3 separate regions of the Homo sapiens genome follow, and regions 1 and 2 are each linked to region 3. The links come from fine-mapping of genetic effects on gene expression. A gene starts in region 3. Each other region holds a variant in brackets. All regions are shown on one strand. Distances are from middle to middle.

Region 1 (8,181 bases), 87 kb before region 3:
AAATAAGAGAAACACAGAAATTATTTGTGAAGACCATATAAAGTAATCCACATAAAATACTTAGCACAATGCCTAGTATGAAGTGCTCCATAAATAGTGGGTAGTATTATGATAGACCAGAAAACAAATAAACGATGACCAAAAATAAAACAAATACAGCTTACTGTTATCTGACTCAATCCAGCCAACCTCATAGTCAAAGTAGGTGACATAAAGTACTTAAATGCAAGATCTAGGCTTTCTTTATCAAAGCATAATGTTGTATCCAATGGTTCTTTGACTGTGCTCCACATTAAGTCAGCCATGTTACGAGCTGCACTCTGTCGTAACTCCTGATCCGAGAGCTTGCATAAATACCTGAAATGATTCAGAAATAGAAAATACACAAAAATTCATAAAGCATTTTTAAAGACCACTCAGTAACTTAAAATGTACATTGTAAGCATTAACATTTTTTGTGTCCAAAACCCACAAACCTCTGGTTTTCCTCTCAGGCCCTGCCTAATCTCTTTGGCAGATTCCTTCTCTGCTGTCCAACCTTTCAACATTAGTCTTCCTCAAGGCCTGTAATGGATTACAAAATGGCCACAAATTCCTCCCATCATTATATGTACAAGAATTTGCAATGTGACTTTGCTATTCCTCTCATCAAAAGGTGTAATCTATTTCTACACCTTAAATCTGGGCCTTGCCATGTAACTTGCTTTGGCCAATGAGATATTAATAGACATGACATAAGTGGAAGCTAGAAAAGCCTTTGAGCTTGCCTTCTCTTGCTGGGAACTCTAATCACCAACAAAACAAGGAACCAAGGTTAGCCTGCTGGATGAAAGAGAAGTGCCTGATGCTCCAACTGACATGAAGCCAACTACAAGACATATATGAGATTCCCGCTCACCCCACAAGACCAATCGGCATGGCAATCACAGAATGTGGGAACAAGGCTAACCTAGACCATCCAGTTTCAGCCAAGTCAATACAGATCAACAAAACTACCTAGCTAGCATGCTCGTTAAGAGTCATCACCACTCCCTAATCTCAAGTACCCAGGGACACAAACACTGCGGAAGGCTGCAGGATCCTCTGCCTAGGAAAACCAGAGACCTTTGTTCACTTGTTTATCTGCTGACCTTCCCTCCACTATTGTCCTATGACCCTGCCAAATCCCCCTCTGCAAGAAACACCCAAGAATGATCAATAAAAAAAAAAAAAATAAATAAATAAAAAATAAACAAAAAATGTAAAACTAAAAAAAAATAAAACACACACACACACACACACAAAACTACCTAGCTAACCAGAGAACTGTGAGAAATGATAAATGGCTGTTGTTTCATTTTTTCTTTTTTTATAAAACAAAGTCTTGCTTTGTCACTCACGCTGGAGTGCAATTGCTCAATCAGAGCTCACTGCAGCCTCGACCTCCTGGGCTCAAGTGATCCTTCCACCTCAGCTTCCCTGGTAGCTGGGACTATAGAAGCATGCCACCACGACCACCTAATTTTCTTCTGCACAGAGATGGAGTCTCGCTATGTTGCCCAGACTGGTCTTGAACTCCTGGGCTCAGGTGATCCTCCCGCCTCGGCCTCCCAAAAGTGCTGGGATTACAGGCATGAGCCACCATGCCTGGCTGGCTATTGTTGTAAGCCACTAAGTTTTGAGGGATGTTTTCTTACACAGCAAAACCAACCCATACAGAGCTCTATCTTAGACTCACCTCTACTCTTTTCCTGTATGCTCTCCTCAGGTGACTCCTATGGTTTTTAAATACCATCTTTACACTCACAACTCTTACATTAATGAAAACTGTTCTGAACTACAAGTTCATACTCCCAATTTGCCAGTGCCATTTAAGTCCCACAGGCCTCTCAAAGTCTTGTCTTTAAGTTCTCCCAGATTTTCACATCTCAGTAATGATATCCACAGTACAAATAAAAAAAATTGAGGAGGGGGGGTGCTGAATGTCATCCACATCCACAATGCTACCCTTTTCTTTATACCCTATAATGACCAGTATTATTGATTTTATTTTCACTTACATTCATCCAATTTTCAAAATCATCATTAACAATCCTACTGTAAGTAATCATCACTTTCCTTCCAGGACTAATATATAAACCTTTCAATTGGTCTCCTCCTAGCTTCTATTCCAGTCACCCTATATTTATGATCTATTTAAAAGCCAAATAAAACTTTTAAAAAATCATGAAACATCTGCTAAAAACCCTTCAATAGACTCCCATTGAAAAAATTAAATCCATACTCCTTACAGTGGCCTACAAGGTCCTGAATAATCTGCCCCTGCTTATCTCTCCACCTTCAAAACTATATCCCCTTACACATTATTCTCCACACCAATCTGCTTCTAGTTTGTGTCATATGCCAACTTCAAAGCCTATACTGACATGTTCCTTCTACAATACGTCTTTCTAATAATCATTTGAATAGCTGACTCACGTCCATCAGATATCACCCTTCAGAAAGGCCCCATACTCCCTCTGTATCACACTAACTTACTTGCATAGCATTCATCACTATCTGATTCTTTGCCTGATACTGTCTCCCAAAAGTTGAGTAGTGCTGTGAAAAAGGGAACACTCAAACCTTTGCAAATGAGAAAAAAAGTACAATACTGTCATAAATGTTATCAAGAAATAAAATATGCAGAATCCTGACAGTTCATACTTTAATTCTAATCAGTACAACCCTTTCTCCATCTTCTTAGGCTTCCTTTTTAAGTTGAGACTTATAAAATTCAAATGTCACCTCTCGTTCAATGAGACCTTTCCTGTCCCCATAAACTGTAACCCACCCCCTAGAACTCTCAAGCCACCTTTGCTGCTATTTATCCTATAATACTTATCACTTTCTGATGTAGTATTATCATTTACTTCTTTTGTAAACAGACTGCACAAGAGCAGAGATTTTTGCAATTTGTTTTCTTCTCTGCTATATCCTCAGTGCCTAGAACGTAACAGACACTTACTGTGTATTTGCTGACTAAATACAGTGGAATAACCATTATTAATCTCTTTAATTCTTTACATACTCATGTAAAAAAAAGTCCAACATAATTTACTAAAAAGTAACCATTAAATATAAATCCATATATGTGCATAAAAAACACTATATACCAAACTGTTACTTGAAATTTTCTCTAGAGGATATGACTATAGGGGACTTTCAAACAATATAATTCTATATTATAAATTGTTTAAATATATTACACTGATAATCGGGGGTAAAGAAATTTTATAAACTTACCTAATAACATAGGTCCTAAAAGGTATAATGTGCTGCATGACAGCGGGAATATGTAGCCATATTCTAATCTATATAAGAAACATAAAAACAACATTAATGCCTAATATGTGAAATACATATATCTTTCACTAAACTAATGAAAAACAAGAGCATTGGCCAGGCACGGTCGCTCACGCCTGTAATCCCAGCACTTTGGGAGGCTGAGGTGGGCAGATCCGAAGGTCAGGAGTTTGAGATCAGCCTGGCCAACACAGTAAAACCCCGTATCTACTAAAAACACAAAAATTAGCCGGGCATGGTGGCGCGCACCTGTAGTCCCAGCTACTTGAGAGGCTGAGGCAGGAGAATCGCTTGAACCCCCACCCCCGGGGGGGGCGGGGGGAAGAGGATGTGGTGAGCCGAGATTGTGCCACTGCACTCCAGCCTGGGCAACGGAGCGAGACTCCGTCTCAAATAAAAAACAAAACAAAAACGAGGATCATTTAGTATTCTGCTGCCTCTATAATTACATATATTATCAATTATGAAAAGAGTATAGTACAAAACAGAATTACACATGTATCAGGAAATTTAACCTATATATTATATATCTTATTTTACATGAAGTCTGTCTGAAAAATTAATCTTAGCTTCTTGCTGAAAAGACAAAACCATCTCTCAAAGTAATATTTCCTTACCAAATAATTCTCTATACCTCTTTGTACGGTAGCATCCCCAATACAAGGCACTGTATTAGTTTTTTAATAAACCGTATTAGTTTTTAACTAATCATCTCATCATTCCTTCCTAAAATATTTCAAATTACCCATAATTTCTAGTCATTTCAGTATCTGAAGCAAATATATTTTACAGTCACACACTGATTACAATATCAACAAGTACTTACTAAGTTTACTATAAGTAACTTACAGCTCGACTGAGTTATAATAAAAGTTACAATAAATATATTTCCTCATTTTTTCTACACAATATTTTAACATTTATAAATCAAATGTGAATACATTATATAACAGTTTTATTTTCAAAAATAGTAAGAATAAAAATCCTAACCCAACCAATCAAACAAAAAACTCTGATACTGAGTCTTGACACAGGCAGGAGATACAAATTAAAAAATCTGGACAGGCGCGGTGGCTCATGCCTATAATCCCAGCACTCTGGGAGATCGTGGCAGGTGGATCACTTGA[G/A]GTCAGGAGTTCAAGACCAGCCTGGGCAACATGGCTGAAACCCCATCTCTACCAAAAAAATACAAAAATAAGCCAGGCATGGTGTCACATGTCTGCAGTCCCAGCACTCTGGGAGGTTGAGGTGGGAGATTCGCTTGAACCCAGGAGGTGGAAGTCTCAGTGAGCCAGGATCGCGTCACTGTACTCCACCCTGGACAACACAGCAAGACCATGTCTCAAAACAAAAAAAATTAAAAAATAAAATACATGAATTTGGGAATTCAGAATGTAGGGATTCACTATAATCAAATAAAAGACGTCTATAAAAACCCTGTAGTAAATACTACGTTAATGATGAAATGTTAAAAACTTTGCCTCCTGAGACTAGGAACAAGACAAGGAAGCCTCAATTCCACTTGAACTGAAGGACCTAGACAATATAAGTTAAGAAACTAAATAAAAGGCAAAGGACTAGAAAGAAGAATTTAAAATAATACTCTGAGATAATATAATTATATAATTAGGAAACCCAAAATAATTATCAGATAAACACTGAAACTAAAGAGTTTAGCAAAACTGCTGCTAGGTTAATATAAACAAATATGCACACACCTATCTATACATACACACAACACCCTATATATGTTCTTTTCTTATTATTTGTTCCTGAGAACAAATAATACAGTTTTCAAAACGATTCCCTTAAGAACAGTATCAAAAATATCATGTGTCTAGGAGTAATCTAACAAGATACACACCTCTACATAAAAAGTTGGAAAATAATCAATTAAACAACATGTAAATAAGGAGACATTTGCCATATTTATTGTGAAGATAATAGTTCTCCCGAAATTCATCTATAGATTCAGTACAATCCAAAAAGGTTTACATGCAGAACTTATGAAACTCATTCAAAGCACAAAGGTCCAAGAATAGCTAAAACTCTCTAAGAAATACGACAAGGAGGCCAGGCGCGGTGGCTCACATCTCACTTTGGGAGGCCGAGGCGGGCGGATCACGAGGTCAGGAGATCGAGACCATCCTGGCTAACATGGTGAAACCCCATCTCTACTAAAAATACAAAAAACTTAGCCGGACGTGGTGGCGGGCGCCTGTAGTCCCAGCTACTTGGGAGGCTGAGGCAGGAGAATGGCGTGAACCTGGGAGGCGGAGCTTGCAGTGAGCCAAGATCATGCCACTGCACTCCAGCCTGGGCAACAAAGCAAGACTCTGTCTCAAAAAAAAAAAAAAAAAAAAAAAGAAATACGACAAGGAGAAGCTGGGTGCAGTGACTCAGGCCTGTAATCCTAGCACTTCAGGAGGCCGAGGTGGGCAGATCACCTGAGGTCAGGAGTTCAAGACCAGCTTGGCCAACATGGTGAAACTGTTTCTACTGAAAACACAAAAACAAATGAGCCAGGTGTGGTGACGCGCACCTGTAATCCCAGCTACTTGGGATGCTGAGACAGGAGAATCACTTGAACCCCAGGAGGTGGAGGTTGCAGTAAGCTGAGATCGTCCCACTGCACTCCAGCCTAGGTGACAAAGTGAGACTCTGTCTCCAAAAAAAAAAAAAAAAAGAAATATGACAGGGAGGTAGTACTTGCTTTCCCAGAGAGCAAGACTTCTTGTAAAGCTTCAGTAATTAAGTCAGTAGGCAAAACAGCACAAAATTAGGCAAATAGAATGGTATACTATGCCAAAGAGCCCAAACCCATGCACATAAAAACATCCGATTTGGCTCATTGTAGTGATGAGGCATGAGTCACCTGTAACCAATACTTTTGGAGGCCAAGATGGAAGGATCACTTCAGGCCACTTCAGGCCAGGAGTTCAACACTAACCTGTGCAACAAAAGTAGAACTACAGAACAAAGAAGAAATGACTGTCTTTGTGACAGTGTTAGGAACACTGGATATCTGTATGAAAAAGAAAATGAATCTTAATCCCTCCTGAAACTATAAATAAAAATGTATTGCAGTTGAATAGATCAAAATATGAAAGGTAAAGCAATAATACTTGTTTCCTGATCAAGGTAAGCAAGAAAAAATTTTTCAAAAAAAACAACAACTTTGGCCGGGCACGGTGGCTCACACCTGTAATCCCAGCACTTTGGGGAGCCGAGGCAGATGGATCACAAGCTCAGGAGATCGAGACCATCCTGGCCAACATGGTGAAACCCCATCTATACTAAAAATACAAAAAATTAGCTGGGCGTGGTGGCAAGTGCCTGCAGTCTCGGCTACTTAGGAGACTGAGGCAGGAGAATCGCTTGAACCCAGGAGGTGGATGTTGCAGTGAGCTGAGATCAAGCCACTGCACTCCAGCCTGGCAACAGAGCGAGACTCCATCTAAAAAGAAACAAACAAAAAAAACTTTGTAAGTATCTTCATGGCCTTAGAGTTAAAAATGACTTTTTCAACCAAAAATGAAAACCTTAACCATAAAGAAAAATGACAAACTGTACAACATGAAGCTTGATGAATAATATTTCTTCAACACAACAGTGAAAAGCAACACGAGAGTGGAAGATATTGGCAATACATATATCAAACAAAACACTTCTACCTAAAAAGACGTCTATCTAAAACACACAAGGAAATTCTAAACATCAGCAAGAAAAAGACAATCCAATTTTGCAAATGGGCGAGAGATTTAAACAGGTACTTCGCAAAAAAAATCCAAATAAGTAATATGCCTATGAAAAGGTGCTGATTCTCATTAGTCGTTAGAAATATATAACAGGCCAGGTGCAGTGGCTCACCCCTGTAATCAAAGCACTTTGGGAGGCTGAGGCAGTCAGATCACTTTGAGGTCAGGAGTTCGAGACCAAGCTGGCCAAACATAGTGAAATCCCATCTCTACTAAAAGTACAAAAAATTTAGCCAGGCTTGGTAGTAGGTTCCTGCAATCCCAGCTACTTGGAAAGCTGAGGCAGGAGAATCGCTTGAACCCAGGAGGTGGAGACTGCAGTGAGCCAAGATCGCACCACTGCACTACATCCTGGGCAACAGAGCAAGACTCTATCTCAAAAAAACAACAACAAAAGTGTGTGTGTGAGTGTATATATATGTATGTATGTATATATATTTATATATACACACATATATAAAATATATATATTTATATATACACACATATATAAAATATATATATTTATATATACACACATATATAAAATATATATTTTTACATATACACACATATATAAAAATATATATTTTACATATGCACACATGTAAAAATATATTTTTACATATACACACATGTAAAAATATATTTTTACGTATACACACATGTAAAAATATATTTTTACGTATACACACATGTAAAATATATTTTTACGTATACACACATGTAAAAATATATTTTACGTATACACACATGTAAAAATATATTTTTACGTATACACACATGTAAAAATATATATTTTTACGTATACGCATATGTAAAAATATATTTTTATATATAAGCATATGTAAAAATATATTTATACACACACACACACACACACACACACACACATATATATATATAAATATAAAAAAAAGGCCAGGTGGAGTGGCTCATGCCTGTAATCCCAGGACTTTGGAAGGCCAAGGATGGAGGATGCTTGAGCTCAGGAGTTTGAGATCAGCCAGGACAATATGGCAAAACCCCACATCTGCTTAGCGGGGCATGGTGGCACACACCAGCTATGCAAGAGGCTGAGGTGGGAAGATCGCCTGAGCCCAGGAAGTGGAGGTTGCAA
Region 2 (8,181 bases), 68 kb before region 3:
TTCATCATTGCCATCACCTATTTTAGATATTTAAGTTACACTGCTGAAATAAAGTCTGAAAATCATGGATTGAAAGCAATCATACAGAACTCAGAACATTTCAAAATAAACAAAAAATGTCCTTAGAGAAATGAAGTCTCAAAGTAAGTGTTAAACCTCCTAAATCCACTCCTGGCTATGACAACCGGGGCCAGAGGTGAAGCTTTATGTTAATCTCAACGAACTTTTTCATGGTCTTCAAAAAGTCCAGAATTTAAGACCTCCTGTGGTATTGTTAAATACAGAATCATGGACCAGGTGAACCATGCTAGAATCTTAGAGCCACGATTTCTAGTGCCTAACATGGGCACAGCTAAAAAATCTCCTAACGGCCGGTGCAGTGGCTCATGCCTGTAATCCCAACACTTTGAGAGGCCTAGGTAGGTGGATCACGAGGTCAGGAGTTCAAGACCAGCCTAACATGGTCTCTACTAAAACTACAAAAATTAGCTGGGTGTCGTGACGCATGCCTGTAATCCCAGCTACTCAGGAGGTTTCAGCCTCCTGAGAATTGCTTGAATCCCGGAAGGCGAAGGTTGCAGTGAGCTGTTATCATGCCACCGCACTCCAGCCTGGGCAACAGGATCAAAACTCCGTCTCAAAAAAAAAAAAAAAAATTGAGTTCTATCCTGGTATGCAGTGTTACTCAGATTTGATTACATCTATTTTGGTGATTCAGGGGAACTGTTTTGCCACTCTATTTCCAATATGAATACATAAAGCTAGCATCCTAAAATGTTATAATCTCATTTTTTAAGTAGTATATAAAAAATTAACACACATCTATAGGTTAAAAAAAACACTAAGAACAACACTAGGAAGTCTCATTAAAAGACGAATTAACGGTCCCGGGCGCGGTGGCTCATGCCTGTAATTCCCAGCACTTTGGGAGGCTGAGGCAGACGGATCACGAGGCCAAGAGTTGGAGATCACCCTGTCCAACACAGTGAAACCTCGTCTCTACTAAAAACACAAAAAAATTAGCCAGGCGTGGTGGCGGGCGCCTGTAATCCCAACTACTCGGGACGCTGAGGCCGGTGAATCGCTTGAACCTGAGAGGCAGAGGTTGCAGTGAGCCGAGATAACACCACTGCACTCCAGCCTCGGCAACAGTGCGAGACACTGTCTCCCAAAAAAAAAAAAAAAAAGCTGTATTAACAGTATTTTTCAAAAGTTCTTATTTTAGGTAATCGCTGAGAAAGGCTTTAATAAACTTATCAATGATTTTTAAAGTCTTGCATTTTTTTTCCTCAAAAACCTCCCATTTACTACATGAGTTGATCCCATCCTATTTATAGCAGAGAAATTTGGTTATTTTAAAAGAGAAAACAGAGAGAAATAAATGAGTAACTATACAGGAAAGGCAATTTTTTTTTTTTTTTTGGAGATGGAGTCGCATTCTGTTGCCCAGGCTGGAGTGCAGCGGCACCATCCCGGCTCATTACAAGCTCCGCCTCCCGGGTTCACGCCATTCTCCCGCCTCAGCCTCCCCAGTAGCTGGGACTACAGGCACCCGCCACCACGCTTGGCTAATTTTTTCTATTTTTAGTAGAGACAGGGTTTCACTGTGTTAGCCAAGATGGTCTTGATCTCCTGACCTTGTGATCCACCCGCCTCGGCCTCCCAAAGTGCTGGGATTACAGGTGTGAGCCACCGCGCCCGGCCAGAGGAAAGGCAATTCTATGTAAATTAAGAAAATGCTGCTCCATGATCAAACCATGAAGAACTCAATGTCTCAAAATTTTTGCTTAAAAGTAACTCAGTGATGTTGGAATTAGTAGTGATAATTGTACAACGTTGGTATTATTCTAAAAAATACTAAATTGACTGGGCGTGGCAGCTCATCTTATAATCCCAGTACTTTGGGAGGCTGAGGCAGGAAGATTGCCCAAAGCCAGGAGCTCAAAGCCAGCCCAGGAAACAGAGCAAGACCCTGCCTCCTCAAAAAAATTGAAAAACTAGCTAGGCATGGTGGCATGCACCTGTACTCCCAGCTACTTAGGACACTGAAGGTGAAGGGTTACTTGAGTCCAGGAGTTCAAGGCTACAATGAATCATAATTGTGCCAGTGTACTACTCCAGCCTGAGTGACAGAGGAAGACCCTGATTCAAAAATTAAAAAATAAGTCCAGGTGCGGTAGCTTACGCCTGTAATCCCAGCATTTTGGGAGGCCGAGACAGGCAGGTCACAAGATCAAGTGATTGAGACCATCCTGGCCAACATGGTGAAACCCTGTCTCTACTAAAAATACAAAAATTAGCTGGGCATTTTGGGTGCGCGCCTGTAGTCCCAGCTACTTGGGAGGCTAAGGCAGGAGAATCGCCTGAACCCAGGAGGCAGAGGTTGCAGTGAGCCGAGATCGCGCCATTGCACTCTAGCCTGGTGACCAAGCAAGACTCTGTCTCAAAAAAAAAAAAAAAAAAAATTAAAAAATAAAACCTTCATGTATATATTTCATCTGTCTGATTATACCATACGTATATTTAACATAAATGCAGTGGTTTCTCTCCTTTCTACTTTTTTAAAGATAGGGTCCCACTCTGTCATGCAGAGGCATGATCATAACTCACTGCAGCTTTGACCTCCTGGCTCAAGTGATCCTTCTGCCTCAGCCTCCCAAGTAGCTGGGACTACAGGCGTGCACCACTACGCCCAGTTAATTTTTTTTTCTTTTGTAAAGATGAGCTCTTGCTATGTTGCCCAGCCTAGACTTAAACTCCTGGCCTCAAGTGGTCCTCTTGTCTTGGCTTCCAAAAATGCTGGGATTACAGGTGTGAGCCACTGTACCTGGCCCTATTTTTTTTTTTTTTTTTTTTTTTTTTGAGACAGAGTCTCACTCTGTCACCTAGGGTGGAGTGCAGTGGCACGATCTCAGCTCACTGCAAGCTCCGCCTCCTGGGTTCATGCCATTCTCCTTCCTCAGCCTCCAGAGTAGCTGGGACTACAGGCACCCGCTACCACGCCCTGCTAATTTTTTTTTTTTTTTTGTATTTTTAGTAGAGACAGCGTTTTACCGTGTTAGCCAGGATGGTCTCGATATCCTGACCTTGTGATCCACCTGCCTCAGCCTCCAAAAGTGCTGGGATTACAGGCATGAGCCACCGCGCCCGGCCCATTTTTATAATCTTTTTCCCTATACTTAGAAAAAAACTTACAACACTAGAGCAATTATCTGATTTCACAGAATTACACATAATTATTCAGGATAAAAAATGCAACTAGCATGGCAAGGCACTATGGCTCATGCCTGTAATCCCAGCACTTTGGAGGTCAAGGCAGGAGGATCACCTGAGGCCATGAGTTCGAGACCAGGCTGGTCTCGATAAACCCCATAAACACAGATAAACCCCATCTCTTAAAAAAGTAATAATAAAATAAAAATAAACTTAGCCAGGCACTGTAGTGAATGCCTAGTGTCCAAGCTACTCAGGAGGCTGAGGTGGGTGGATCGTTTGAGCCCAGGAATTCAAGGTTATGGTGACCAATGATCACACCACCGCACTCCAGCCTGGGAGACAGAGCAAGACCCTGTCTCTTAAGGGGAAAAAAATTAAAACTAGGCCATTCCCCCTTTTGATCCTGAATTAGTACTACTTATGTCCAATTACCGAACCTTTTAAAATATCAGCTTTGATGGGGACAATAGGAAAGAGAAGAAGGAAGGGAGACAGAAGGAGTGGCTCCAAGTTCCCATATTATTTAGAATACAGTAATTAGTTCAAAATGATTTAGAAGTAGTGCAGTAGAGTAAGACCCGGATTCTAGGACTCTTCTCAGCAATATGCCCAATCAAATCTTTTAACCTCTGTAGGCCAGTTGCTTCTTCTATAAAATAAAAGTGTTGAGTAGGTTTCTAAAGACACAGCTATCAAAATACTAACACATGAGTTTTGAATCTTGTCCTCCTAAGAATTTTGGCTAAGTTGTGCCTCTTTAAAAAATATTAACGAAAAATCAAAATCAAAGGCTTAAGAAAGGATAGCACAGCAGCACAAAGAAAAGACTAGATGGACAATTTCCTCAAAGAAAAGTGGGATAAAA[A/G]TCTCTAGTAAGCTGTATTACATTTCATAATAATTTGTTTGCTTTAAAATAATTGTGTGTATATACATACAAAATTTATACATATATATAATTTTATAACATGTATGCTACCAAGTCTTTGATCTAAGACCATTTGAAACAGTTGACCCTTACCGCATTTAATTAAATGGCCACTGGGATAGAAACTAGAAATTTTAGAGCACTTGTAACAGATCATTATTAAGATAATAGAAACCTCGGAAACAACTATTACGAAAAGAAAATTAAAGAGGCACATATCTAATATATTAATAGAATTTGGTATAAGGAGGTAACTCCTTTATTATCTCTATGGGTATTTTTTGTCAGAATTTTCCTCGAAGACCTCAAAAAACCACTGCTTTCAACCAAGTAGTAACATAAAATACTCACGAATAATAATAACAAAGTACTTTAAAACAAAGTACAGGAGTGTAACTATGCCTACATTTAGAGATTACCATTTTTGAAAACAGGAAAGAAAAAACACTGATGAGCAAGTTTATTTTAGAAGCAGCAGACTCAGTATTACTTATATAGTTCTATATCATTAAGAAATTTTTAATTGGAAAAAATTTCTGTGAATTTCACATATCTAAGTCCCTAACGAAACTATTTTCAGCATCTTTCAGTTACCAAGTTAAGATATTAAAGCACTATGTAGATGGTGTTTATGTAGATTAAATATTTCAAGTTTGCCTGATGGGACTTTCTTTTGTTGAAAAAAGATTACTTTTTCAGAATATTTAATATATTTTATATCATGTAAGAGATTATTTAAGTTTCTATACTGGAAGATCACAGGCTAAGATTTTTAGAAAACAGAGCACAATCTGCTTTTAAACACTCTTTCTCCCCCACCCAGAGCAGGAGTGAGTGAAAGTTTATCAAAAAGCTTTAGAGGCTGGGCGCAGCGGCTCACGCCTGTAATCCCAGCACTTTGGGAGGCAGAAGCGGGCGGATCACAAGGCCAGGAGATCGAGACCATCCTGGCTAACAGGGTGAAGCCCCATCTCTACTAAAAAATACAAAGAAAAAAATTAGCCGGGCATGGTGGCGGGCACCTGTACTCCCAGCTACTCAGGAGGCTGAGGCAGGAGAATGACGTGAACCCGGGAGGCGGAGCTTGCAGTGAGCCGAGATCACACCACTGCACTCCAGCCTGGGCGACAGATCAAGACTCTATCTCAAAAAAAAAAAAAAAAAAAAAAAAAAGCTTTAGAACAGTAAGGAAAGAAGGACAGAAAGTACAACTTGGAAGAGGGCCAAGTAGGTGACTTGTGTGCCTGATTTAAAATATTCTTACGAAGAATTCTAACAGGGAAAATATCTGCCCTCAAGCTATGTTTTCAAATAAGTCTCCATTCGACATGAAAATATCCCAGTAAAGGACTATTATTTCCCAGATGAAGAAAGAGAGGTATAAAGGTTACAGAACAAATAAGCTAGAGAAAAGAGACAGATAAAAAACAAACAAAAAAAATGTCATAGATTCTCTAATGGCCATAATTCTTCATATTCCAGGATGCACAGGAAACAATGTATAAGATATAAAATGAAATTTTACCTCTCCTCCCCCCAGCAATGGAGTCTACTTCACTACCCCTTTGAATCTGGGCTGCCCTTGTGAACCGCTTCAAGTAACAGAAAGCAGCACAATAGAATATGGCAGAATTATACTGTGACATTTCAAAGGCTGTATCATAAGAAGTCTTACAGCTCCTACTTTTGCCTTCCTGGAGCACTGCTAAGACTACTATTTAAGGAAGCCAATCTACCCTAGTGGAAAATAAGCCATGTGGAGAAAATACAAGGAGCCCCAGATAACAGCCACTACCAACTGCCACACACACAAGTGCGACCCAGACCTTACCCATCCAGTTCTCAAAGTAAATTCACCTGCATAACTCAGCCTACACAAAACTAGCTAAGGAACTGCCTGTGAGAATCATGAGGAATAATAAACCACTGTTAAGTCATTAATATATTACCACATAATTGTCTCAATTCCCACTATGCCTAGAAATCAATCATATTATCTGAGTTAAGTCTAAGATAGGTTACTACATACTTAGAAATGCTTGCAAAAACATCACTAATAGAGTCAAGCATCTTAACTTACAAAAGAAAATACTATTACTTAGCCAGGGGTGGTGGCTCACGTCTGTAATCCCAGCACTTTGGGAGGCCGAGGTGGGCAGATCATGAGGTCAGGAGATCGAGACCATCCTGGCTAACACGGTGAAACCCCGTCTCTACTAAAGAAAATTCTTTTTAAACTTAGCCAGGTGTGGTGGCAGGCACCTGTAATCCCAACTACTTGGGAGGCTGAGGCAAGAGAATGGCATGAACCCAGGAGGCGGAGCTTGCAGTGAACCGAGATCACACCACTGCATTCCAGCCTGGGCAACAGAGAGAGACTCCATCTCAAAAAAAAAAAAAAAAAAAAAAAAAGAAAGAAAGAAAGAAAGAAAAGGAAATACTATTATTTGAAACTACTAATCACAGATAATTTGCTAAGCTTTTTTTTCTTGATAAAAGCAAATTCTGATCTGTAGACTGTTTCTAAGAATGAAATTTAAAATTCCATGTGTTTCTTTTCCCTCAACTATTATTTATTAAGAGTCATAAAATAAGCATAGATCTATAGCAGTAAAATGTTTAGATCACTACCAGATTAATTTCTGAGTTCAATGTATAGATCTTTCCTTGATAGGATGAACTATGCCGAGCAAATTTTCAGCACAAACTGCTGAAGAAATGCTCTGGAGAAACATTAAATAATTCTGGTGACAATAATGATTTTCCGCCAGCAGAAAACTGTCTTCATATTTATCAGTAAGAAACAGACTGCGAAGTTAAGACTTGGTATTACTTAAAATTCACACCACCTATTTTACATACCTCAATAGTAGGGTGAGTATTATGCTTGTAAGCAGTATATAAGGGAAACTGAATTTGAAAAATTTTTGCCACACATAGTAAGAGTTTTTCCTTCTCATCTGTACTCCATAAACTAAAAGGATCAGAACTCTTTGAAGATTCCTCCTCAGTCAGATTACAAATTCTTGTAGAGTTTGATTTTTTTTCTATTGATTTTTGTCTTTCTGTACTTCCTTCATTACACTCTCTATCTATATTCAGTGGTTCTTCTGCTTGATTACTCTCATCTTGCCACGTGGAATCTATGTTAATGGTAGTACAATGTTTACAAAGCTGGTCCCGGAGCACTTGAACTTGGGCAATCACTAAGTTAATAAGTGCACACACTACTTGATTAAAAATCTCCAAATGCTTATATTCCTTGAAGCAGCATAGACATTGCCTATAAGAGAAAAAAAATTGAATAAATTAGTAATAAAGCAGCAGCTGTATTTTTTAATAATATAAAAAAACAAGTAAGCAAATACTAAGTTATTTCTAGACTTGTTTTTATTTTTTCCTTCCTGCTGGGGTACACCTTAATAACATAAAGATAGCATCGCAACAACAACTGATATTTTAGTTAGTGTAAAGTCATCATGTTAGGTTTACAGCTATTATCTTCAGTTTTACGTATGGATTTGTCTGTCCTTCTACACATGGAACTATTTAAAAACAAGAATTGTGACATTTTGTTTCTCCAGTGTCAAGTACTCAATATATGTTTAGCAAGTTATTAGGAAACTTATAACAAAATATCTTATTAGTAAAGCCAGCTGGTTATTTAATATAAGGAATTTTGTTGTCAACTAATAAAACAGCCACATTTTTAGATTAATGTCCTTGAAGGCTACTTGGGAGGGGTGCTCTGACGCTATCTGGCAAATCAAAAGTGTTTAGGAACAACACACACACACTCTCTCTTTCTCTCTCTCTCTCCCCCCCAAGCTCCTGTAAAAAAAAATATATGTGTATTTAAAAAAAAAAAAAAAATATTGGCCAGGCGCAGTGGCTCACGCCTGTAATCCCAGCACGTTGGGAGGCTGAGGCAGGTGGATCATTTGAGGTCAGGAGTTCGAAACCAGCCTGACCAACATGGTGAAACCCTGTCTCTACTAAAAATGCAAAAAAAAAAATAGCTGGGTATGGTGGTGGGCACC
Region 3 (8,181 bases):
AGACAAGCCTGGCCAACATGGCAAAATCCCACCTCTACTAAAAATACAAAAATTAGCCAGGCAAGGAGGCGGGTGCCTGTAGTCTCAGTTACTCAGGAGGCTGAGGCAGAAGAATCACTTGAATCCGGGAGGTGGAGGTTGCAGCTAGCCGACACTGCATTCCAGCCTGGGTGAGAGTTAGACTCCGTGTCAAAAAAAAAAAAAAAAATTTATTACACTCGTTTGCCCAGGTAGCCTTCTCTAAGTGTGATCACTGTTTGTTAATTTCACAAGAAACAGTGTTTTTGGTTTGTTTTTTCAAGACAGCAGTCTTGGCCAGGCGCGGTGGCTCACGCCTGTAATCCTAGCATTTTGGGAGACGGAAGCGGGTAGATCACACGGTAAGGAGTTCAGACCAGCCTGGCCAATATGGTGAAACCCCGTTTCTACTAAAAATACAAAAATTAGCTGGGCATGGTGACGTGTGCCTGTAATCCCAGCCACTTGGGAGGCTGAGGCAGGAGAATTGCTGAACCCAGGGAGGCAGAGGTTGTAGTGAGCCGAAACCGTGCCACTGCACTCCAGCCTGGGTGACACAGCGAGATTCTGTCTCCAAATAAAAAATAAAAAAATAATAATAATAAAAAAAGCAGTCTTACTATGTTGCCCACGCTGGTCTCGAACTCCTGGCCTCAAACAATCCTCCTGCCTCAGCCTCCTGCCGAGGCGGGATTACAGGGGCGCACCACCACGTCTGACTGTTTTGTGAGGTTGCTTTAATACTAATTACGTATTTTTCAGCATGACCTGGAAACACACCACCCAAAAATATGCACAATTTTATTGCTTCTCTCAGCTGGCTAAACTGTTACAGGGTGTCGTATTTAAAGATGAATTCTGAGCACATTTTGGGAGGACTGTAACTTTGTTTTTTTTTTTTTTTTTTTTGAGATGGAGTCTTGTTCTGTGGCCGAGGCTGGAGTGCAGTGGCATGATCTCGGCTCACTGCAACCTCCGCCTACCAGGGTTCAAGCAATTCTCCTGCCTCAGCCTCCCAAGTAGCTGGGACTACAGATGCCTACACCACCACACCCGGCTAATTGGTGAATTTTTAGTAGAGATGGGGTTTCACCATATTGGCCAGGCTGGTCTCGAGCTCCTGACCTTGTGATCCGCCCACCTCGGCCTCCCAAAGTGTTGGGAATACAGGCGTGAGCTGTATTCAGAGTTGCCCGGCCAACTCTGAATTTCTAAATCAACGTTGAACTGATGCTCATCTTTGTACAAGGTACAGGCGGGAAAAGGGCAGACTTTATAGGTAATTACTGCAAATGAGATCACAAGAAACACATATAATCTACTTCAACAAGTTTTATCAAGCTCCAACCACTCATGTTCATTATCATGCTCCATCATAGCCACGGATAAGCAAAGAACTACAGAAAAAAAAACAACTTTTAATAGTGTGGTATAAACTACACATGTAATTGTTGAAGTAAAAAAAATGTTTTTTGAGACAAAGTTTCGCTCTTGTTGCCCAGGCTGGAGTGCAATGGCACAATCTCGGCTCACTGCAACCTCCGCCTCCGGGTTCAAGCAATTCTCCTGGTCAGCCTCCCCAGTAGCTGGGATTACAAGCATGTGCCACCACGCTCAGCTAATTTTGTATTTTGAGTAGAGACGGGGTTTCTCCATGTTAGTCAGGCTGGTCTTGAACTCCCAACCTCAGGTGATCCGCCAACCTTGGCCTCGCAAAGTGTTGGGATTACAGGCGTGAGCCACTGCGCCTGGCCGTAAATTTTTTTAAAAAGGAAGCATCACTGTGAGATTATTGTTTAAGAGTTAAACTTTTAAATTGAGCCTCAAAGGCAATATTAAGAAACTAAGTATTTTTAGAGTCCACTGGCTTACACACAAATAGAAAATCCTTACTTGTTCATTAGAACAGGTTTCTTAGAGGGTGCACATGACCAGATTTTGAGAAGCTGGTTGAACTAACTGTATTTGCTTAAAGGTAATAAAAGCTAAATTCTATTTCAATTCTCCACATTTCTAACACTCCATAAATGCACTGCATTTTTCAGTGCTTCTAACCAAAGTTCTAGGGGTTTCCCAGATAATCTTAAATAAGACCTTTCATTATGATCAAGATGCCACCTCTTTTCAAAAGATAAACCAACTTTACTTTCTTTAGATGTTTTGTTTAAAATTTTCCAAGTTTAAGATATTTTAAAATCAGCCAGGCGCAGTGGCTCACGCCTGTAATCCCAGCACTTTGGGAGGCCGAGGCAGGCGGATCACAAGGTCAGGAGCTCAAGACCAGCCTGACCAACATGGTGAAACCCCGTCTCTACCAAAAATACAAAAATCAGCCGGGCATGGTGTGGGGAACCTACATTTCCAGCTACTTGGGAGGCTGAGGCAGGAGAATCGCTTGAACCTGGGAGGCAGAGTTTGCAGTGAGCCGAGATCATGCCATTGCCCTCCAGCTTGGGCAACAAGAGCAAAACTCTGTCTCAAGAAAAAAAAAAGATATTTAAAATCACCAACAAAATTAAGTACTTGTTCCTCATATTACATTGCAAAACGATTAACTTTCCAAGTTGAGCGTAACAATCATAATCACACGACTTGTATGTGAGATATAAAACACAGTAAGTATTGAGGATTTAAGTTTATCATATCGTAAACCGCCTGCGCCAGAAATAAAAGTATCTCAAAATACACACAAATAATCTTAAAATTCTAGGATAATTTAGGGTGACACAAATACTGGAACCTCTAGTTGGAATATGTGCAAAAGCCTATTCCACCTATCAGGAAGTAAATACGGAGTTGAAATTAAGTTAGAACCCTTCCACTTTTATTATTGTCTTTGGTCATTAAAGTGACAGTCAAACACAAATACCATGGTACATTTTATAAATCAACTGTTTTAGCGAATTGTATTACAAAATTAGATAGTCTGAAAGTCTGTGGAAATATCACAAACAGAATACAAATCCAAAACCCACATAAACTGTTCATAAGTGAGCATTTTTTCAACAATCAACTTTTTGTAAATTGATCCCTTCATCTAATTCACCTCTGCCAACTAGGCCTTTACGCCCAGAAGTAGTTGATTTGCAATATATCTTCTATAAGCTGAAATACCATCTTGCAAGGGTCGAGAATAAAATAAAAAGGCCAGAAAAGATCAACGTACCCTTTTTAATAATAAAAAGTAAAGTACCAGGTAAAAGGCCTTTCCTTCCAAGAGAGATAGGCCATAACTATCCCGGGATGGTATGTGTAGTACAGTGCTCTGCTTAACAGAATGTACCATTAAAGCGGTGAATGCTACACTAAGAAACATCATTAACAAATTTATTTTAAAAATAGGTATGAAGGTTCCAATCATCACTATCACAGTTCGTTTTCAGCTATTTAAGGTCTGGCTGAAGTGTTTAAGACACCCACAAACCCGCAAGGGAGGGAAAAACCACCACCCTGCTCCCGGGAGTTTAATGAAAATTAGCAGGTAAGAGAGGCCTCGGCAGCACGCTGGAAATCAAAGAGGGCGGCCGGAGGATTTGGACTGCGGAGGAAAGCCTCGTCCTCCGACCCCACCTCCCCGCACCTTCCCGGCAGGGCGAAGGAGGCGAAGGCGGCGAGGGGTTCATTACTGCCTTCATTAATTGACACCTGTAATGAGGAAACTTTCCGAGAGCCCAGAGCGCCCGGGCCAGGCCGAGCCGGAGCTCCGCGGCGGCCGCCTCTCGGGCGCCCAGGTAACCCGGCCGGGCTGGGCCCGAGGCGCCGCGGCGGCCGCGCCACCGCGCACCTTCCCGGGGCGCTAGGCCCGCACGCCGCCCGGCCCGGCCGTCGCCTCCCGCAGGCCGCGGCAGCCCGGGGAGGCCAGAGAGCTGCGCGAGGACCCCAAACCGTGCACCCCGACAGGCCGCTACCGCGGCTACTTACTTTCATTTAACACCTCCACCAGGTCTGCGCAGTTCTCGCACATCGTTCGGCCGCCGCCCCCCCCCTCCCCCGCTTCGGATCACACTGACTGATCCCGACCGGCGGGGGGGAGGGGAGAGAGGCGGAGGAGGGGGCCGGCCGGCCGGCGGGGCGGGGAGGCGACTAGGGCGGGCGGCGGCGGGGACGGGGCGGGGAGCAAGAGAATGGGGGAGGGGGCCGGCGGTCCCCGCAGCGGGAGGGGGAGAGGAGGGGAGCGAGGGGAGGTGCGCAGGCCGGAGGGGCGCCGAGGCGCCGGCGGCGGGGAAGGGGGGGAAGGACGGGGGGAGGGGAGAGGGGGGGAGGGGGCGGGTGGGGAGAGAAGCAGCAGAGTCACTTCACCGACCAGACGCCGCGGCCACCGCCGACGCCGCCGCCATTTTAACAGAGCGCTCGGGCTGCGCTCGGCTCTTTCCGCCCGGGCTTAGGAGCGGACGAGAGGCGCCTCGCGCTCTCATTCCTCCGCCTCCCTCCCTTTCTCGCCTCTCCTCCGCCCCCCACCTCTCCCTCCGCACACACGCCGCACGCTCCACACCCCGCCGTGGCCGGCTCGCCGCCCTCCCTTTCCTCTTCCGTCCGGCCTCCCCGCCCTCGGTCCACCCCCTCCGCGCGCTCGCCCACCCCGCCCAGCCCGGATCTCTGTCAGCGGCCGGAAGGGAAACGCGAAGCCAGCGCGGCCGCGGGGGGAGTCCGGGTGAGTAGGAGAAGATGGCGGAGGCAACGGACGGGTCGCGGTTGCGTGGCGTCGCCCACCACGACCCACTCCACGGGCTCTGAGGCCCGGGGAGCGCCAGGTCACTCGCTCCGTCCTGTCCCCCGCCCCTGGGCTTCGCCATTTTTCCCCAGGGCCTGGGTCGGGGAGTTGGTGCGGGTTTCTTTGGTGTCCCCGGCCTCTTCCGCGCTTAGGCTTTTGGGGTACGGGAAGCAAGGAGTCAACTTGGGTGCCGGGCCGGGTCTACGCCGTAGCCCTCTTTCGGGCGCAAGGGCCACTCCCCCCGGGGTCTGAGAGTGAATCAGCCCAGGGCCCGGCTTAACTGCATCGGTGATTATCGCTACCCTGCAGTTCCTTGAAGGTCCTCCGTCCTGGAGCAGTAAGATCCTTGACGTAACTAGAAATGGCAGGGTAAGGAGTGTTTGCCTGACATCGTCTCGTTTTTACGGAAGAGGGCCCCTCACGATGTGCCCATCAGCCCCACCTGAAATAGCAAGAAATCTTCTTCAGCAGAGAGCGAATAACAAGGATATTAAGATAAAGAACAGGTGAAGGGGGCAGTCAGCTGAAGCTTGTAAGGGAATTTTCCTCACGCCGGCACTTACCCCTTGCTTGCTAATTTTTGTGTTCAACGTGTTTACATAGACATGTGACTGCAAAGTCCGAAAGATCGTGTACAGAATCTCTGAACGGTAACCAGAGTGTCTGTCAAGGCTCTGTAGTCATTCTCTCGATAGCTTTTGTGGAGGTTATGGCACGCCCATCTCTCCATGCCAGAACCACCTGGTTCCAAATGCTTTGCCTTTCTGCTGCTTGAAGTTGATACTATAAACAGTCTGCCCAACCCGTTTTGTTTCCCACTAGCAGGTGATCCTTAGGATTGTAGTTCTATTCTACCATCATCTTCCCTTCTTCCTTGTCTTTCTCACAGAATTGGGTTTTTGCAGACTTACTTTGGATCCTGAGGCAGACATTCGTTGTCCACTCAACATACATTCCCACGTATCCCTTTTTTCCCTGCCAACACAACCCCAATTATTTTTATTTGAATTTTTTTTTTTTGAGACAAAGTCTCACTCTGTCGCCAAGGTTAGAGTGCAGTGGTGCGATCACAGTTCACTACAGCCTCCACTTTATGGGCTCAAGGGATCCTCCCACTTCCCTAGTAGCTGGGGCTACAGGCGCTCTCCACCACACGTAACTAATTGTTTTTTATTTTTAGTAGGGACAGGGTCTTGCTATGTTACCCAGGCTGGTCTCAAACTCCTGGCCTCAACTGATCCTCCGGCCCAAAATGTTAGGATTACAGGTATGAGCCAACGTGCTGGTCTCACGTTTTTTCAGGTAGCAGTTGAAACCAACCATCATGGTGATCTGGCTTTTCTAGGGCTGGCCATACATAATTGAGTTCCTCCTGATAAAAGGTAAGCAACAATCCTGAGAAACATAGTGGGAGCCCTGTGTCTACAAAAATTTAAAAGGTGGCTGGGCGCGTTGGCTCACTCCTGAAATCCCGCACTTAGGGAGGCTGAGGTGAGCAAATCACCTGAGGTCGGGAGCTCTAGACCGGCCTGACCAACATGGACAAAGCTCATCTCTGCTAAAAATACAAAATTAGGCATGGTGGTGCATGCCTGTAATCCCAGCTACTCAGGAGGCTGAGGCAGGAGAATCGCTTGAACCCGGGAGGCAGGGGTTGCGGTGAGCCGAGATCGCGCCATTGCACTCCAGCCTGGGATAAGAGTGAAACTCCGTCTCATAAAAAAAAAAAAAAAAAAAGGCCAGGCATGGTGGTTCATGCCTGTAATCCCAGCGCTTTGGGAGGCCGAGGCGAGAAGATCACTAAATCAGGAGATTGAGACCATCCTGGCTAACACGGTGAAACCCCGTCTCTACTAAAAATACAAAAAATTAGCCAGGCATGGTGGTGGGCGCCTGTAGTCCCAGCTACTTGGGAGGCTGAGGCAGGAGAATGGCATGAACCCAGGGAGCAAAGCTTGCAGTGAGCTGAGATCGCGCCACTGCACTCCAGCCTGGGCGACACAGCAAGACTCCGTCTCAAAAAAAAAAAAAAAAAATTACCTGGTCGTGGTGGCTCACGACTATAATCATAGTACTTTGAGAGTCCAAGGCAGATGGATTGCTTGAGCCTGGGAGTTCTACATCAACCTGGGCAACATGGCAAAAGTCCATCTCCAGTACATAAGAAAATTAGTGGAATGTGGTGGTGCACACCTGTAATCCCAGCTACTGGGGAGGCTGAGGTGGGAGGATCACTAGAGCCCAGGAGATTGAGACTGCAGTGAGCTGTGGTCATACCACTGCAGTCTAGCCTGGGTGACAGAGTGAGACCCTCTCTGGAAAAAAAAAGAAATGTAAGCAGAAATCTGCAGGATGGGTTCTTTGGGAAGAATTCCCAAAAGAATTCCTAATACGATGAGGGACAAATTCAGCTAACATACCATTTAACCCTTTCTGCCTGAAACATGGTCTTGATGCACAAAGTAATACCCATCTTGTAATTTTTTTAACAATGAAAACTTTTACCCCATTTGCGATTTCATTGTTTAAAAAATTTGATTAAACAGGCCGGGCACAGTGGCTCACGCCTGTAATCCCAACACTTTGGGAGGCTGAGGCAGGTGGATCACCTGAGGTCAGAGTTCAAGACCAGCCTTACCTACATGCTGAAACCCCATCTCTTCTAAAAATATAAAAAATGAGCCGGGTGTGGTGGCGGGCACTTTGTAATCCCAGCTACTCGGGAGGCTGAGGCTGGAGAATTGCTTGAACCCGGGGGTGGAGGTTGCAGTGAGCCGAGATTCTGCCATTGCACTCCAGCCTGGGCAACAAGAGCAAAAAAAATTCCATCTCGAAAAAAAATGATAAAACAGAATCATAAAGTGTGGATCCCTGATGCATCTTTGAACAACAGTCTATGCTCAGACTGCTTATGTGAGAAAAATAAAATGTATTTTTCTTGGCTGGGCATGGTGGCCTACACCTGTATTCCCAGAACTTTGAGAGGCTAAGGAGGGCAGATCACTTGAGGACAGGAGTTAGAGACCGGCCTGGCCAACGTAATGAAACCCATCTCTACTAAAAATACAAAAATTAGGCTGGGCGCAATGGCTCACGCCTGTACTCCCAGCACTTTGGGAGGGGGAGGTGGGCAGAACACAAGGTCAGGAGTTCAAGACCAGCCTGGCCAACGTAGTGAAGCCTCGTCTCTACTAAAAATACAAAAATTAGCCGGGTTTGATGGCGCATGCCTATAGTCCCAACTACTTGGGAGGCTGAGGCAAGAGAATTGCTTGAACCCAGGAGGCAGAAGTTGCAGTGAGCCAAGATCGCACCAGTGCACTCCAGCCTCGGCGACAGAGCAAGACTCCGTCTCAAAAAAAAAAAAAAGCCGGTTGTGGTGGAGGGCACCTGTAATCCCAGCCACTCAGAAGGCTGAGGCAGGAGAATCCCTTGAACCCGGGAGGCAGAGG

The links. PIP is the estimated chance that this variant, and not a neighbour inherited with it, causes the effect.
Region 1: its variant is fine-mapped to the expression of USP34-DT in whole blood (TOPMed, PIP above 0.99). The same link has a PIP of 0.9 or more in lung.
Region 2: its variant is fine-mapped to the expression of USP34-DT in whole blood (INTERVAL, PIP above 0.99).

Annotation. Positions count from the first base shown.
Region 1 is chr2:61,380,005-61,388,185 of GRCh38, forward strand. It overlaps USP34 (ubiquitin specific peptidase 34), which reads right to left. Exons shown (of 80, transcript NM_014709.4): 6 at 3,265-3,332; 7 at 165-357. Among named protein-coding and RNA genes, the nearest start is that of SNORA70B, 33 kb to the right of the region's middle. RefSeq lists an enhancer at 743-1,244 and a silencer at 836-1,036. The variant G/A (reference allele first, on the strand shown) is at 4,452.
Region 2 is chr2:61,398,705-61,406,885 of GRCh38, forward strand. It overlaps USP34 (ubiquitin specific peptidase 34), which reads right to left. Exons shown (of 80, transcript NM_014709.4): 3 at 7,004-7,424. Among named protein-coding and RNA genes, the nearest start is that of SNORA70B, 15 kb to the right of the region's middle. The variant A/G (reference allele first, on the strand shown) is at 4,082.
Region 3 is chr2:61,466,711-61,474,891 of GRCh38, forward strand. USP34-DT (USP34 divergent transcript) reads left to right here and starts at 4,386. Exons shown (of 3, transcript NR_185882.1): 1 at 4,386-4,669. USP34 (ubiquitin specific peptidase 34) reads right to left here and starts at 4,377. Exons shown (of 80, transcript NM_014709.4): 1 at 3,940-4,377. The coding sequence starts at 3,982. RefSeq lists an enhancer at 156-655 and silencers at 3,699-4,118, 4,209-4,288, 4,319-4,628.